2 separate regions of the Homo sapiens genome follow, and region 2 is linked to region 1. The links come from fine-mapping of genetic effects on gene expression. Tissue or cell type: subcutaneous fat. Region 1 holds a variant in brackets; the other region holds the start of a gene. All regions are shown on one strand. Distances are from middle to middle.

Evidence for each region. PIP is the estimated chance that this variant, and not a neighbour inherited with it, causes the effect.
Region 2: SNTG2 starts here. The variant in region 1 is fine-mapped to the expression of SNTG2 in subcutaneous fat (GTEx, PIP 0.95).

What each region holds. Positions count from the first base shown.
Region 1 is chr2:1,089,536-1,097,638 of GRCh38, forward strand. All of the region lies in intron 2 of SNTG2 (syntrophin gamma 2), which reads left to right. Among named protein-coding and RNA genes, the nearest start is that of SNTG2-AS1, 140 kb to the left of the region's middle. RefSeq lists an enhancer at 1,340-1,841. The variant G/A (reference allele first, on the strand shown) is at 3,343.
Region 2 is chr2:947,297-955,388 of GRCh38, forward strand. It overlaps SNTG2 (syntrophin gamma 2), which reads left to right and starts at 3,553. Exons shown (of 17, transcript NM_018968.4): 1 at 3,553-3,772. The coding sequence starts at 3,701. SNTG2-AS1 (SNTG2 antisense RNA 1) reads right to left here and starts at 4,096. Exons shown (of 3, transcript NR_136151.1): 1 at 3,989-4,096; 2 at 2,615-3,090; 3 at 2,338-2,505. RefSeq lists a silencer at 3,462-3,591.

The DNA of each region.
Region 1 (8,103 bases):
GAAGCAAGAGAATCACTTGAACCCAAGAGGTAGAGCTTGCAGTGAGCCGAGATTGTGCCATTGCACTCCAACCTGGGTGACAGAGCGAAACTCCGTCTCAAAATAATAATAATAATAGTTTACATATGTTTGTGTACGAGGGTGTGTGCACACAAAAGCACACTTTATAAAGAAATCAAATAGCGCGTCACTCAAGTAGAACTTTCAATAACTAAAATCTAACAGCAAAGACAGTTGCATAATCTGCCAAACATTTTTATTTTTTTAAGTATATAATTTTTCAAACCTAAAAAAATTGAAGTGAGCAAACAGAACCCTGTGCAATTATTATTAATATTTATTATATGCCAACATAGCACTAGATTGCTTTGGCTCTGTCTACGTTATTAAAGAGTGAAGTGTGCCTCCACATCTGGAGCCTGACTGCTTCCTCACTGGCCTTTCGGTACTGATGCTCCTACCGACTGTTCCATTTACATTTTTAAATTCTTCCTTCATACGCATTTTTCCACAGACAACATATTTTTTGTGTGTTTTTCAATTGTAGATAAATGGAATGCCATTAGGTGCTCATTTTGCAAACGTTATGCTTTTTAAATGGATCTACAATGCATGAAGATAAAACCTGCTCCATGTAGATCTACTTAGTCCATTCCTTTAAGGACTATGAGTTGTTATATGAACTGTCCAAAGTTGATAAGTTTTCTGCACATTCTTAGTTGGATGTAAGTCCCCACAAGAAAAATTTATATTTTCAATATTACCAACATATTTATTTTAATAAGCCTAACTTTGCAATGATGTGTACATTCGCTAGAAGTTAATCTGGGGCTCATATGTGGTGAGTTCTTGTTACCAGCTGTGAATCCACAACCGTCTGCAGCAAACTTGATTCTTGCTTCCTTGGAGGAAAGAACTGGGTTGAGGGGCAGAAAGAGGTTTAAGTCAGAGGGAGAGAGTGAGGCCAGTTTTAGAGCAGGAGTGAAAGTTTATTAAAAAGTTTTAGAGCAGGAATGAAAGGAAGTGAAGGACATTTGCAAGGGCCGGTGGGTGACTTGAGAGATCAAGAGCCCCATCCAGCCCTTGACTTGGGGTTTTCTCCATTGACATGGTTCCAAGGTTTGCAGCCCCCCTTCCCTGATTCTTCCTTCGGGGTGGGCTGTCTGCATGTACAGGGCCGGCCAGCATTTGGGAGGGGCCGCATGCACTGTGTGTTTCCTGGGGCTGTGCACATGTTCACTTGAGGCGTTTTTCCCTCACCAGTTGAGTCCACCCAGAGGAAAGTCATAGACCAGTTAAATACCACCCTTTTGTCTTGAAGTGTGCATGCTTGAGGCCACTTGCCCAGCTCCTGAGATCTTATCGGGAAGCTGCTTATCTCCAGCCTCAGGTGTTTTCTATCTACCGGGAGACTGCCTTTTCCTGGTACTGGCTGTGCCCAATGATCATTTTAGAGAGAAAGTGTAACAACCACCTGACCACCACCTGATGGTCGCCTGACGTTCTGGGGCTGGGGCCCATCTCCTGCCCTGTTCATGTCTGCTCTGTGATATGGTTGTGAAGAGCGAAGTTGAAGGGCGATGACAGGCCCATTCGCATCTGTGACTAATCTTGGTGGGTGCCCAGCTGACTGGCAAGAGCAGTGCTGCCAGGTGTGGAGCTGGCAGGTGAGAGGCAGCTGACATGGACAGACACCCCTGCTCCTCATCACCTGCCCTGATAGTGCAGGCCAGGCTGACCAGGAAAGCTGCCAGCCCCAGGTCCCTGGACCACTTGGGACAGCTCCCCTGGAGGGCCAGGCCCATCAGTACAGGGGCTGGGGGAGGACAGCTTAGGGTGGAAAAGCCCTGGAAGCTAATTCAGAGGAGAAGAGCATCTTCAGGTTCCTCCTGTACCCCATCAGGGATCGAGGCAGGGGCTCCAGATGGACCAGAGACTCTGATGCCAGGACGCAAACATCATAAGGTCATGGCGGCCGGGGGCCTGGTTCCTGACTGCAGCTCCCAGAGACCCCAGTGCACTGTCCCCGCATCAGGTTAGGGCTACGGGGCCGCTCCCCCATGAAGCCCGCCAAGGGCAGCTTTTGTCATTCCTGGCCTGTGCTTAGACCTGAAGAAACTCATACTCAGGGCTTTGGGTGTGAGAAGCCAGATCCAACTCCTCAAGAAGGTGGAATACTATGGAATCATTGAATTTTTAAAATTTAGGAGTTATCATACACTTTTCAAAACTCTAATCCCAGGATATTGAAATCCTTCTAATAAGGATTTAACATCCAAATTAAGCAAATATGCACAAGAGTTTTCAAGTAACTCTTCTTAGTTTGAAATCATTGCATCCAGACACTGAGAAATAGTTTACTTACTTCAGATGGCAAATCCAGGCTCCCTCAGCCTATTTAGGAAATTTTATTTGAGTGAATTACTTTTAAAAAGTGGAGAGAGATTCAATGCCCCATTCTGAAAAATGCCTTATAGAGTGTTTGCTAAAGCAAAGGGAATGTCCAACTCTGTGGAAGAAACAATGCCTCCTGACTCAACAGCCCCCTCACATAGCCCCAGGGCGAAGTCTGTTAGCACATTGTTTTCTGAAATAAAACTCTATGAGTATTTTTGAAAGTATCTTTCATGTGTGGGTGTGAAATAGAATACTTCAGAATTGTTTTTCTATAAATTTCTAATTTTTAAAATTTAACTTTCAAGCCCTTCAATTAGAGAGAGAAAAAAAAACCCTTATTTTCTAGGTCCCTCGCCTTTCCCACATCTCCATTCTCTCCTTACAAGAGTGAGGCCAGGCCTGTGTGAGGAGTAAGACCTCCAGGGAAGGGAGGGGGATCGACGAGGACCTGGGGAGAGAGCAGGGGGATTAACACCCCAGGTCATCCTGTCCTCACCACAAGAAGGGTTTTGGGCTGAACAAACCTGGGGGCAGGGTCCTGGCTGGTGGCCATGGTACAGGCGCAGTGTTTTACCTGTAGAACTGATTGAAATCTTTCTGGAAACTGCAGTATTAAAATCTGAACATGAGTTTGCAGCCATAACAAATTTAAATTTAGTGTTAAGTCCACAGTTTAAATATCTGAAGTAGAATTGTGAGGCCCATTCATACATGTAATTCAGTAATAACTTGAAGAACAATGTTTTAGAAGACCAGAATAAGAAATATGATCTTATATACCCCCAAACCACTTTTTTGTTGATGAGAAATGTATAATTGATAAGTTATCTATGTCATAGAAAATAGCTCGTTCTTAAAATATGTGGTCAGAAGATAATGTGGAGATAGCTATGTTCTATTATTAATATAATGATGCTGCTACCAAGATGTGAACATTAATTAAAT[G/A]TCATAACATAGTTTGGGATTAAATGATAAAATGCAGAATAATATTTTATGAAAGATTTTATCTGATATGTTTGTGAAAAGAAAAGCAGGATTGACTTTGAAAATAATTTATTGAACAATTACCTTAGATTGCAACCTCCATTCTGTAGAAGTTTTATGATACATTCGATTGTATTCTGAATTTGTTCCTTTGGTGAGTCCCTGGAGCCCCTGAGTATGGTAAGTGAGGAGGCCGTGATTATGGGGGAACGCATGGAATAGGGGAGTCAGGCCATAAATTAGATTCATAATGAGCCTCGGGGCAGCTCACGATCCGCACCTGCTTGTGGGTCCTTGACTTTAAGGGGTATGTACTGGGAGAGCATTGAGGCAGCGGACTGTTTTGGTTGCATTAGAAATGCCTTTTGATGACATTAGTTTGTCTAGATATCAGCTAACAGAGCACTATGGAAATGCTACCCAGAACCTTAAATTAAAGTGATCAGCTGTGGGTTGCCTCTGGGGTCATAAAATAATTAGGATGCAGGAGGCAGGATAACTTCAGCCAGGCTGCTGTGTGAAAAGTTCCAGTTAGAAGCTGCAGAAGTTTTCCTGTTTACTTTTTATCATCCAGTAAGTTTTATAAATCTTGGTTTGAAAAGTAAAGTTCCTAGATATGCTAATGTTAAAATGTTAGAGCCTTCATAATTATATAATGTTCATTTCTAAAAGTGTGAAAACACAAATTGGCTGAGCCTTTTCTCTCAACTTTGACACACTGAAGTCCTGGTGTTTGAATGAGGTGGTTTTAAAATAACGATTTTTCATGGATAAAACTAACCACCTTGGTATTTTTGTTAAACCTGATGGTCTGTAAGGTGCTTTCCACAGTGATCTTCCTTCACTCCTGTTGAGGCAGCTTGGGCTCCACCGTAATAAGGAACCACAGGTGGGCTGGCTTAGGCAGCAGGGACTCCCTTCTCACCGTTCTGGGAGGTGGAAGTCCAACACCAAGGTGCTGTGGGTTTGGTTACTGGCAAGGGCTGCCTTCCTGGCTTGCAGGCGAAGGCCTTATAGGTGTGTCCTCATATGGTAGAGTTACTGGCAAGGGCTGGCTTCCTGGACTGCAGGCGAAGGCCTTATAGGTGTGTCCTCATATGGTAGAGTTACTGGCAAGGGCCAGCTTCCTGGCTTGCAGGCGAAGGCCTTATAGGTGTGTCCTCATATGGTAGAGTTACTGGCAAAGGGCTGCCTTCCTGGCTTGCAGGCGAAGGCCTTATAGGTGTGTCCTCATATGGTAGAGTTACTGGCAAGGGCCAGCTTCCTGGCCTGCAGGCAAAGGCCTTATAGGTGTGTCCTCATATGGTAGAGTTACTGGCAAGGGCCAGCTTCCTGGCCTGCAGGCAAAGGCCTTATAGGTGTGTCCTCATATGGTAGAGTTACTGGCAAGGGCCGGCTTCCTGGACTGCAGGCGAAGGCCTTATAGGTGTGTCCTCATATGGTAGAGTTACTGGCAAGGGCTGGCTTCCTGGACTGCAGGCGAAGGCCTTGTAGGTGTGTCCTCATATGGTAGAGTTACTGGCAAGGGCCAGCTTCCTGGCCTGCAGGCAAAGGCCTTATAGGTGTGTCCTCATATGGTAGAGTTACTGGCAAGGGCTGGCTTCCTGGACTGCAGGCGAAGGCCTTATAGGTGTGTCCTCATATGGTAGAGTTACTGGCAAGGGCCGGCTTCCTGGACTGCAGGCGAAGGCCTTATAGGTGTGTCCTCATATGGTAGAGTTACTGGCAAGGGCTGGCTTCCTGGACTGCAGGCGAAGGCCTTATAGGTGTGTCCTCATATGGTAGAGTTACTGGCAAGGGCTGGCTTCCTGGACTGCAGGCGAAGGCCTTATAGGTGTGTCCTCATATGGTAGAGTTACTGGCAAGGGCCAGCTTACTGGCCTGCAGGCAAAGGCCTTATAGGTGTGTCCTCATGTGGTAGAGTTACTGGCAAGGGCTGGCTTCCTGGGCTGCAGGCGAAGGCCTTATAGGTGTGTCCTCATATGGTAGAGTTACTGGCAAGGGCTGGCTTCCTGGACTGCAGGCGAAGGCCTTATAGGTGTGTCCTCATATGGTAGAGTTACTGGCAAGGGCCAGCTTCCTGGCCTGCAGGCAAAGGCCTTATATGTGTGTCCTCACATGGTAGAGACAGCGAGGTGGGGGTGGGGAGAGAAAGAGCAAGAGAGAAAAAAGAGAAAAAAAAAGAGAGAGAGAGAGCGCTGTATCTGCTGTCTTTTCCTGTTCCAACCCTATCAGATAGGGCCCACCTGAATGACCTCATCTGACCTTAGTTACCTCCTACAGGCCCTACCTCCAATGCAGTCACACTGGAGGTCAGGACTTCAACACGGATTTTAGGGGGACACAGTCCCATTCCCAGCACTTCCTATTAGGGCTCACAGTACAGCTCTCACTTTCCAGATGCAGAAACTTGATTTTAGAGAGATTTAGAGACCTAAATACCTAAATGGCTAGTACAAATGTACACAGAAAGGAACATTTCAAGAGACTGCACAAAGCAGGTATGAAATAAATATTATTCTGGCTTAGCTAAAATCATAGAGAACAAGCCCTTCACATTCCAGTAAACATATATTTATGTTGGTTGTTAATGGTGTAATTTTTTTCTTACCTATCTTGTTAAGAATATTAGTCCAGATTTTACCACAGGTGATCAGTTTCTTGATATTTTCTTTGAAATATCAAGGATATTTTAGGGTATTTCAGGATATCTTCCTGACATGTATAAGTGAGTCAAATGACAGTTTTAAAATGTCATTCTTTGGCAGTCTATCAAGGCAGAAACTAACTTGTTTCTTCTCAAAATGTATTTTCTCTCGTCTTGTACTTGCTTGCATGAGTTTCAAATACTTACACTAACAGCTACAATTTTAAAATGTTATTGAGCATTTTCAGAAATTCCATACAGAGAGGCCTCCAGTTACTATGACGTAGATAATTCAATTTTCTCATCCTCCATAGCCTTAGAACTCAGAAGCGTAAGGCTGTTTGCTGTGGCACACAGAGGAGCAGCTGGCAGGTGGACGGACGCCTTTCTCCCCACTCCCTCAGTTGGCCATGAACACTACAGAATTTAGCGTCTGCTGAGGGAGGGAATGAACCCCCCCTTGGTTCTGCAGTCCACATTCATTGTGAGATGCATTCTGGCCTGCAAAGTCAACCGTCCATGTGTTGAGGAGGAAAACGGTATGCCTCCCACATGCAGGAGTAACTCCCTCTCCCTCCTCTATAGAGGATATCCTTGGAAACCCTCTGTCCACATAATGGGATTTATTTATTCAGCTTTATTGAGCTACAACTAATAAAAATTGTACATGCTTAAGGTGTACAGGGTATGTTCTCATATGCATATACATTGTGAAATGCACACTACAAACAAGCTAATACATACATCACCTCTTACAGTTACCTTTGTTTTTTGTGGTGAGGACATGTAAGGTTTATTCTCTTAGCAAATTTTAAGGAAATATGGTATTATTAACCATAGTCACCATGCTTTCCATTAGAGCCACAGAACTTGTTTACCTTACAGCTGAAATGTTGCACCCTTTGGCCTGCACCTCCGCCCCCCAACCCTGAACGCCCCTGGTAAACACGGTTCTACCCTCTGCTTCTGCGTTCAACATCCTTAGATTCCACATGCAGGAGACCGTGTGGTATTTGTCTTTCTGCGCCTGGCTTATTCGACTCGGCACAGTGTCCTCCAGGCTCATCCATGTTGCCACAGATGGCAGGATTTCCTTCTTTATGGCTGAAGGATGTTCCATTCGGTGTATCTACTGCATCTTCTTTATTCTCGCATCTACTGGTGGACACTTGGGTTGTATCCATATCTTGGCTGTTGTCAGTAATGCTTTGATGAGCAGGTTTAAGAGCCTGTTACTCTGTCCATTGGTGCAGTGTCACTGGGAAGCATCTGTGGCATTTCAGGTAAATACTGAGAATGTGGATGCAATGAGAGCCCGTGGTATGGATGTCCCAGGAGTGGCTCTGACTTTGCTGTTCACAGTATCTGGAATACAGTCTAACACCAAGAAAAAGCCAAAACGATCACTCTGTAGCAAAGCCCCCGAAATACGGCTCTTTTTCTGTGTATAAAATTATTTTTGTCAGTTAAAAATACTATATGTCCAAAAAGGATCGAAATGGTAAAATTTCCAATTAAAGTATTATTTGCTGTGTCCCCATATACACACTTTAACACAGGTATATTTGCTCTAATTTTTGGTTTCTTTCCTTTGAGTTTATGAAGTATTTCCCCCTAAGAAGGACATTCCTGGGGTATCTCAGGCTGCGGAAGCCCTCACAGCAGCCTCCCTGCATCTGCACCTGCACCGCTGGCCGGGGCGGGAGCTCCCAGGTCCCCCCTTCGGCGTGGGCTCTGCCACCCTTTTACTTCTTTGTCCTTGCTTTGCACAGCAGATTCCTTTCAGAGCCATTCAGCCTGAACATGCTCATGTTTCCTCTTAGAACTCAAAGAATGTCTGTCACTTCTGTTTTTCCTGTAGTGTATTTTTGAGGTAAAAGCACCCTTTGGCCACTGTCCGTCTACCCCAGGCTGCCTCTGTGCGCCCCCTCAGAGCAGCACCAGTCACTCATGTCTACCTGAAGTTGGCAACAGTCGCATTCATCAGATTAGACCACAGCAAAACATAGGTGCATGGCTTAATGCGCAAGAGATTTGGAGATTTTTTACCATTTCACTAGCCAGTTAAAGGCCTA
Region 2 (8,092 bases), 140 kb before region 1:
AAAAAGAAATCATGCTAGTTTTGCTATCACATTTCAAACTGCAAACGTTACGGCTGCAGTGAGTGATAAGTGCCTATTTAAGACGGAAAAGACGCTGAACTTGTAGGTAGAAGACATGAGCGGAAAGGTGTTCCCACCGAGGGCACGTCAGCGCAGAAAGCACAATCCCATGGGAAGACTTCAGCAGTCAGTCCCCCAAAGTGAGTGACACTGAGCCATTCATGGCAAGTGAGGCATAGCTACACTGATTTAGGAGTGGGCTTGTCACGAAACCAAAAACCAAAAACCAAAAAACTGGAGAGGCTGTGTTTGCCAGTGAAGAAGCTGCTGCCATATTTCCGGCAGAGTTGAAGTTGATTAAAGGGAAAGGATGCCATCCAAAGCAAGTCTTCAATTGCAGTGAGACCAGGCTCCTCTGGAAGAAGATACCCAACAGAACCTACGTTCTTGAAAGGGCAAAGAAGGCCCCAGGGCATAAAACACTGAAGGGCTGATTTACCCTGTGCCGTGTGCAATGCTGTAGGACGTGTGGCCAAGCCAGGTGTGCTGCACACACAGAGGAACACTTATGCTCAAAAAACAAACGTTACCTGCTTGTGTTCAGGCAACATAACCAGAAAGCATGAGTGGTAACCACCATGTTTATGGAAGGGCTCCACCAGTACTTCCTCCCAAAGCCTTGGAAGGGGGAAGGTTGGAATATAAAGTCTCATTAGTAACAGACAATGTACCTGGCCATTCTGAATATGTTGACTATAAAAATGACAAGGCCAAGGTTGTATTATTATTAAGACCGGGTCTCACTCTGTCGCCCAAGCTGGAGCGCAGTGGCATGATCTCGGCTCAATGCAACCTCCGCCTCCAGGGTTCAAGGGATTCTCCAGCCTCAGCATCCCTAGTAGCTGGGACCACAGGTGCATGCCACCATGCCTGGCTAATTTTTGTATTTTTTTGTAGAGACGCGGTTTTACCATGTTGCCCAGGCTGGTCTCAAACACCTGAGCTCAAAGCAATCTACCTGCCTTGGCCTCCCGAATTGCTGGGATTACAGGTGTGAAGCACTGTGCCCGGCCTCAAGGTTGTATTTTTACCTTGAAATACAACCTCATTGCTCCTGCCTTTTGACCAGGGCATCTTCCAGTTTGTCTAGGCCACATACATCAGTTTGGTCAGCAATTGATGCATACATATATATGCATATATATATATATATATATATGCATGCAATTGATACATATATATATGCATGCAATTGATACATATATATACACACATACATAGTTCAGTACTATCCACGGTATCAGGCAGCCACTGGGGGTCTTGGAACATACCCATGAGGATGAGGGGTTACTGGAGTTTTTTGTACTACATTTAGAAAGTTTCTGTAAATTCAGAATTATTTCAAAGTTAAAAGTTAATAAAGAGACACTAACTGCAACTGGTTTTAGACACATCTCAGAATCAAAGCTATACTCATCACAAAAACCAGAAAGTTGAATTTTGGTAACCTCATGGGGGACATTCCCTCGCAGAGTTTCAGGATAGTCAGGGTTTTACTTTTTATTGTTATTGTTATTGCAGTAGAACCCTAGTATTTAAAATAAGCAAAATAACCCTTACGTGCAGTCCTGACACAGATGCATAAAAGCAGATAGGCAGTTAAAACTTGAATTAATTAGCCTTTCAAAAGCAGCCCCAGAGCGCCTACGACGTCCTGGAATCACAAAATTTTATTATAGAAAGGATTCCAGAGATTGTTAGCCAAAACTACATTATTTTACAAATGAATTAACAATTACCTTTGGTCTGAAAAACAAAAATATATGTGTCTATTCATTTAACGATAAAATTTTAACAAAAACTTGTCTCTCAAAGTCAACATTTATGCATGCAACACGCTGTTTTTCCTTCTTCAGGCCCTGGAATAGAATGTCCCTTTGCAAGGTAATGAGACAATATCTTTGTGCTATTTGTAGACATTTAATTTCTCAGAGATTATATGCACGCTCTTTTAAAAATGCAATTTAAAGGCAAACAATAATCTCTTGTACTTTTTCTTATTCTAGGTTTTGCTACAAATAAAAAGTAATACAATATTTTTTACCAATTCACCCAAGAAGCATATTTTGTAACAGCCACTGTGCCACGTATAAAAAGACCTGGTTTTTGCTATTCAAGAGCTTGTCCTCTGGTTAAACTGAGTGCTAAGAAGTGCTGGCAGACTGCCGTGAAGGTGAAACAGGAATACAGAGAATAGAGAAATGGGGAAGGGCGTCTGTGTTCGAAACCCAGGTCTGCTCAGGGGTCAAGCAAGTCGGAGTCAGAAAAAGTAAAGTGTTTAACATCGAGTTTTCAATATTTATTTGTTTACAATGCGTCACATTCTGCTCCTAGATAGGGTTAACCTCTGAAGACCTCAGATTTCGCTGCTTTTCCTTGCCGTGGAGAGGGAATAAAACGGGCATCGTGGCCTCCGCGATGGGCGCTCGTGCCTGGGTCGAAGGACTGGGGGGCGGAGGATTTGGAAAGGGAGAAAAATACGGGCTGGCTTCTTTTTAAAAAATGTGGGTAGCCTTGCCTGCCCCCGCCGCACTGGAATTTATCCTAAACTTACTTTCATTTACATTAAAACAAGACGATTTGAGTCTACCAAACCCAATACTGCATCTGTGAGGCTCCTTTTGGCACAAACCTGAATGAACAGCGGGAAACGCCGTCTCCCCTGGCGTCTGAGATCTGGGGTCCCCTCCCCACCTGGTCTCCTCGCTCCCGCCCCAGCCCCGTGCGCCCCAGGAGGGCACCGCCGAGCGCCGGGTCCCCGCAGGGTTCGGGAGACTCCGCGGACCGGAGGAGGGATAGGACCCCCGAGCTTTGGGGGCGGGAAGGGAGGGTGGAAGGAGGAGGGGAGCGGGGTTGGGGAAAGTTGGAGCTTCGGTATCTTTTCTCCGGGCCAGGCCGTCCTCGGGGCCCTGCGCTGCGTCTCCAAGTGCTGGGAAGACTCCGCGGGGAAAGGTCTGAGGACGCGGCCGGCTGGCACAGGTGTGGCGGCTTCAGAGGGCCGGGGAGAACCCATGGCTTCGAGGCTGTGGACTAGAAATGTCCCTGATTAGAAGCTGAGAACCTTTGGCCAGGGAGGTGGGGCGGCGGGGAGGGGTCGTCAAGCCGGTCCAGAGCGCGCCCACCTGCGCCACAAGGGAGAAGAGGTGCCCCCCGCCCCCCTCCGCCCACCGCCGCCACGATGCGCCGCGGACCTCGGCGACCCAGCCCGGGTAGAAGCGCGCGCTCCCCTCCTCCAGCCTCGTGCGCCGGCCCCTGCCCCGCCAGCCCCGCTATGGTCCCCCATCCACCCCCGCGGGAGCGCCCCTGTCCCCCCATCCTGCACTTCCCCCAGAGTCGCGCGCCAGTTTCCCGCCCCGTGGAAGCGCCCCTCTCCCGACTTCGGCTGATCCCCGCTCGCCGCCCTCCCCGCGGGTGCGCGCCCGGCCCCTCCCTCGCCCGGGGCGGGTCTGCGTGGGCGGTGCTCCGGGTCGGCGGGCGGAGCTCCGGTTCCCCAGCCCTGCGCCCCGGTGGAGCCCGAGCCGGAGCCGGCAGAGGGGCGCGGGCGCGGACGCGGCGCCTGGCGGGGCCCTGGGAGGCTCGGACGGGGTCCTGGCGTTGAGCTCGGCCGGCCCGGAGCGCGGACCCAGCCGCAGGGGCGGCGATGGGCACCGAGGGACCCCCGCCCCCGGCCGCCTCCCGCGGACGCCAGGGCTGCCTGCTGGTACCTGCGCGGGTGAGTGCGGCCCCTCAGCGCCCCTTCACCTCCGGCCCCCCTTCCCTCTCCTTCGCGCCCTTCTCCCCCCGCCCCTCCTCCCTCCACGCCCCCTCGCTCCCCGCGACCCCTTCCCTGTCTCCGGGGACGGCTGGCCGGAGGGTGGGCGCCGGAGCCCCGGGACGCAGTGGGCACCCGCCCCCTGGCCGCTCTGCTCCCTCCAGCCCAGTGTCTTACTGGAAACTTGCAGGCTTTGCTCCTCCAGCGTCTTCCAAGGTTTGGTTTTGAGGCGCCCGGGCTTCCCTTTACTGCGTGGGAAGTAGTGCTTTCCAGAATTTGGGATTTGAGATTGGCCCGGCATTGCTTCCCAGGAGCGGCTCTTTCGGGCCCAGGCGGTGGCTCGGACCGGAGCGTCCCCCCTGCAGCCTTCGGGCGCCCAGGCCAGGTCTGAGTTGGCCAGTTTGAGCCCAGCCAGGTGCATGGCGCGGCCTCGGCAGGTGCTGGGGGCTCTAGGCCATTCGGGGAACCGCTGGGACGCCAACTGGGTAATACGGATTTCTTTTTTGAAGTCTATTCTGGTTCCCACCCTAAATAACTCCCTCTTCACCTTCTTATTTTTAAATAACTAAACTATTGATTGACAGAAAACAGAAATGTTGGCCCAAAGAAAAACGAAAAGTTCTTGGAAACCTTCAAGTTGCCACCCACAGCACAGCCTCGAGTTGTGAAAACAGTTTAAGGGAGCACGTGGCCACCCCAGCCCTAGGAGGCTGCCGAGAAGCGCGGCTGTTAATGAAAATGCATTGACAACCACTCCTTTAGGATTCCTTCCCCAGGAGCTCCCAGTCCCAGGAGCGACCAGGAATACAGTTAGCCCTCCCTTATAGGACAGTGGAGAGACGGTTCAGAAGGCCACGGGTTGAGGGCTGCTACAAATTCCTATCGTCATAATAATGATTCTAAACTAGGACTGTGGTCGTCGCTACTGTGATGTTAAAAAGATTTCTATGTAGAGACAGGTGCATCTTCATTCAAGTAGCACCTTTCTGGGCTTTTACTACAAAATATGAAAATTAAATTTCATGTAAAATGTGGGTGTTCGTTTCTTGAAGTACTTTGTAATATGAATAGCTATCCCACTGTTGCCCATGGTAATCAAACCCGAGAAAATATGCGGGGATTACCTGGAAATAAACCGCAGTAAAAACTGCAGGCGCTGTGGAATCACAGGCTTTCCGTCTGGTCACTGCCTTCAGCTTTATAATGATGCCCTCCCACGGTTAGGGATTGTGCATTTTTCTCCAGACATTCGAGCAAAGCAATTCTTGCTTTTAATCATTGTAATTATAGCGGAAGCGTTGAAGTGGATTCATCATACTTCATGATTGACCCACTTGATGAGTTATTGGCAATAACGTCAACAAATAAAGCAACTGCGCGTATTCTAGTAAATGCTCTCCTTTGCGCTCAGTATTAATTAAGGTGCTAAATTTGATGTTTTCCAGTCAAGAGTGGCCTCTGCTCACCTGTTTGCTACAAGATGTGATTGGCGCTTTCTTTCTAATAAGGACCTTGATTATTTGAAACAGCCTGTCTGAATTGTATTGAAAGAAACTTTTTTTTTAGCGTTGGAGGCCAAGTATTACAATAAGATGGAGCATTTTAAGAGCAAGACTCCTAACTTTGCAGTCATAAGTAATTAGGTATGTGCTAAGCCTACCTTAGACACCAGTGCATGGTCATGTTAGCTCAGATTCTTATGTATTTAAAACGAATCTGTTAAGTATTGGTGTTGGCAGGTTTGTCTTGAAAACATGAATGTTCTTAGTATACAATGTCATCCTTACTTAATGGCAGAATTATTTTCTTACCATAACTGCACAATATTATTCAACTTGTGTAATTATTTAATCATTTCAGTTAAGAGAACTTGGTGCTTTTAACTAGAAAAAGATGAAAGTCTTTTCTAAATCTTATATTTCTAGTTATATTTTTTCTATCTGAAGTCAAAACTATACACATTCTTTATCATGACTGCTTGTTTGAATCATGGAATTTGGCCACGTTTGAAGGTCTCCTGTTCGGTAACAGACCTGTTTTGTTTCCCCTTTCAAGTGCCTGTTCCCGATGTTTTTTTCTAAGTTAAGTGAGTTCATGGAGCTCTGTCTCTGACCATACCTGGATTTGAGGGGTAAAATCCCACTGGCAGACAACCTCAGTACAATGTGCGAAGTGTGTCTTGCTTGTAGCTTCAAAGACTACTATTGGTTGATGTTTACAGCACATTTGCTGCTTTTAAATGACAACACTTCTTCAGTCTGGGGCGCTGGAAGAATTATTGGCATGAGCCGGGAACATGCCCATTTATGTGATGAGCTTGCCCACTGAAGGGGGAAAGCACGTTAGGTCATTTTAAAGGTGCATGTGGGGTAAGGGCACCACCTAATCATCTGTTTACAGATGTGAATTGCTGCATGAGATGAATGAAGCATCTGAGCTCCTAAGAAGGTTCCCCATTCCTTCTATGCTTTGGTTATGTTTCTCATCCTTGCTGACTCATCTTTAATTTCAACTGTAGAATTTCTATTGACGTCTATGACATCATAAGCAAAATCCATGCATTACAAAGCAGGCAGTTACCTGACTTTACCAGGAGACATGGAGACATGTTCCCCAGTAAATATTTGAATGAGGTCCAATTAAGAAAAGTGTGCCTTGTTTTTGTTTTTGTTTTTTTCCAACATGGGATGTTAAAATTGCCTTGTTTTCTGAATGGTGTATGTGGAGCAACAGCTTCTTGTCTCTGGATATCTTTATGGATGATGACTGTAGACAAGGCATTTAAGCTTCAGTTTTAATTTAGATCTGCTTCTCAAGATACCCCATGAGGCTCTGAGTGAGTTGGCAGAGGGGCTGGCATTGCAGTTCTCGGTGACAGAGGGTGTGTTTGCATCGCAGGCCTCCTATTTACTAAATGGGTATATTCAGGATAGACTTACTAAGCAGTGTGATTTTCTGGCTTTCCTGTTAGCTCATGTAGCATGTGACAGCAGGCACACGAGGGACCCCAAAGAGGAGCTGCTCTCAGGCTCTGCTGCGCACCCCTAGCTCCTGCGCTGCTGGGCATGGGGCGGACACAGGCAGGTGCTCGTGGAAATGGAGAAGGAAGGAGGGAGATCAGGGTTCCAGGGAACTCAGAGAACCCCGGCTTCGGGAACCACCATCCTCTCTGGCTCTGGCTTCTCACCTGTGGAATGTGTGCTTGGGTTCCGAAGGTCACTTTGTATCTGATTCCAAATCCCTCAGAAACTCACTCTTTAATTAGTTCTAGAGGTATTTTTGTTGAGTGAGACACAACAAGGAAGGTGGAAAACATGCTTTTGGAGGAAAAATGCACTCAGGATTTAATGGAAAATGGACCTTGAACTGGTGTGTACTTGTCATTGTTGTCCAGCTGGTTACCGCATGTTGTCATGACTGTAGTTTTGAATAGTCGACTTTGGATTATTTTCAGCTAACACTAGATGTCACTTTCCCCCAGTCCATACTAAAGTTCCCTGTAAAATTCAGGAAGCCGAGGTTATCCTTCCTATTTCTGTATTAAATGCTAAGCTCCCCTATGTGGGTGTAATCCCTCACCTGAGGACTGACCCCAGCCTGTGGCTCTTCATCCCCTGCCCCTCTGAACAAGAAGGCCCTCCAAAAGCTCACCCATTTCTGGCTGCCTTCCAGGGACCGTGCTGCTTCTTCACCCCATCAGCCTGAACCTTCCTGTTTTCTCCCCTTGCACATTTTAATAAATACTGTTAACAATGCTGTGAATATGAGGATGTGATTTTGCAATTAGAATTACATGTTAAAATAGTTTGCTTTTTAAGGAGTCTACATTTTTACATCCTATAAATATGATTATAAACTAGCTACATTTTAATTTAGCAAAGACTTTGGATTTAAGAAAGTGAGTATGCTTCTTATTTAGGGGATACTGTTCTAAACATTTGTAAAATGTAAAGTTATATTTTTAGTGCAAAAACTATTAAACTTCACAGTCTGCTAACTGCTAAACTGCTAAGTTTTAATTCTGTTTTATCTGTTATACTTTGTAAAGAAACTGCATGTCATTCACTTCTCTGGACTTGAAACCTAGATCAGTGCATGGCCTGTTATTTTGCAATAATCCGCATTAGTGTTAATGAAAAAGGTGACCCTCCACTGTCAAGATTCTGAGTATCAACTCTGGGAGTTACCAACATTCACTCGACATTTGGGTGAACATCATTTGATGATGGCACCGAATCGTGTTATTATAAAAACAATCACATAGAACATTAGAATCAAGTG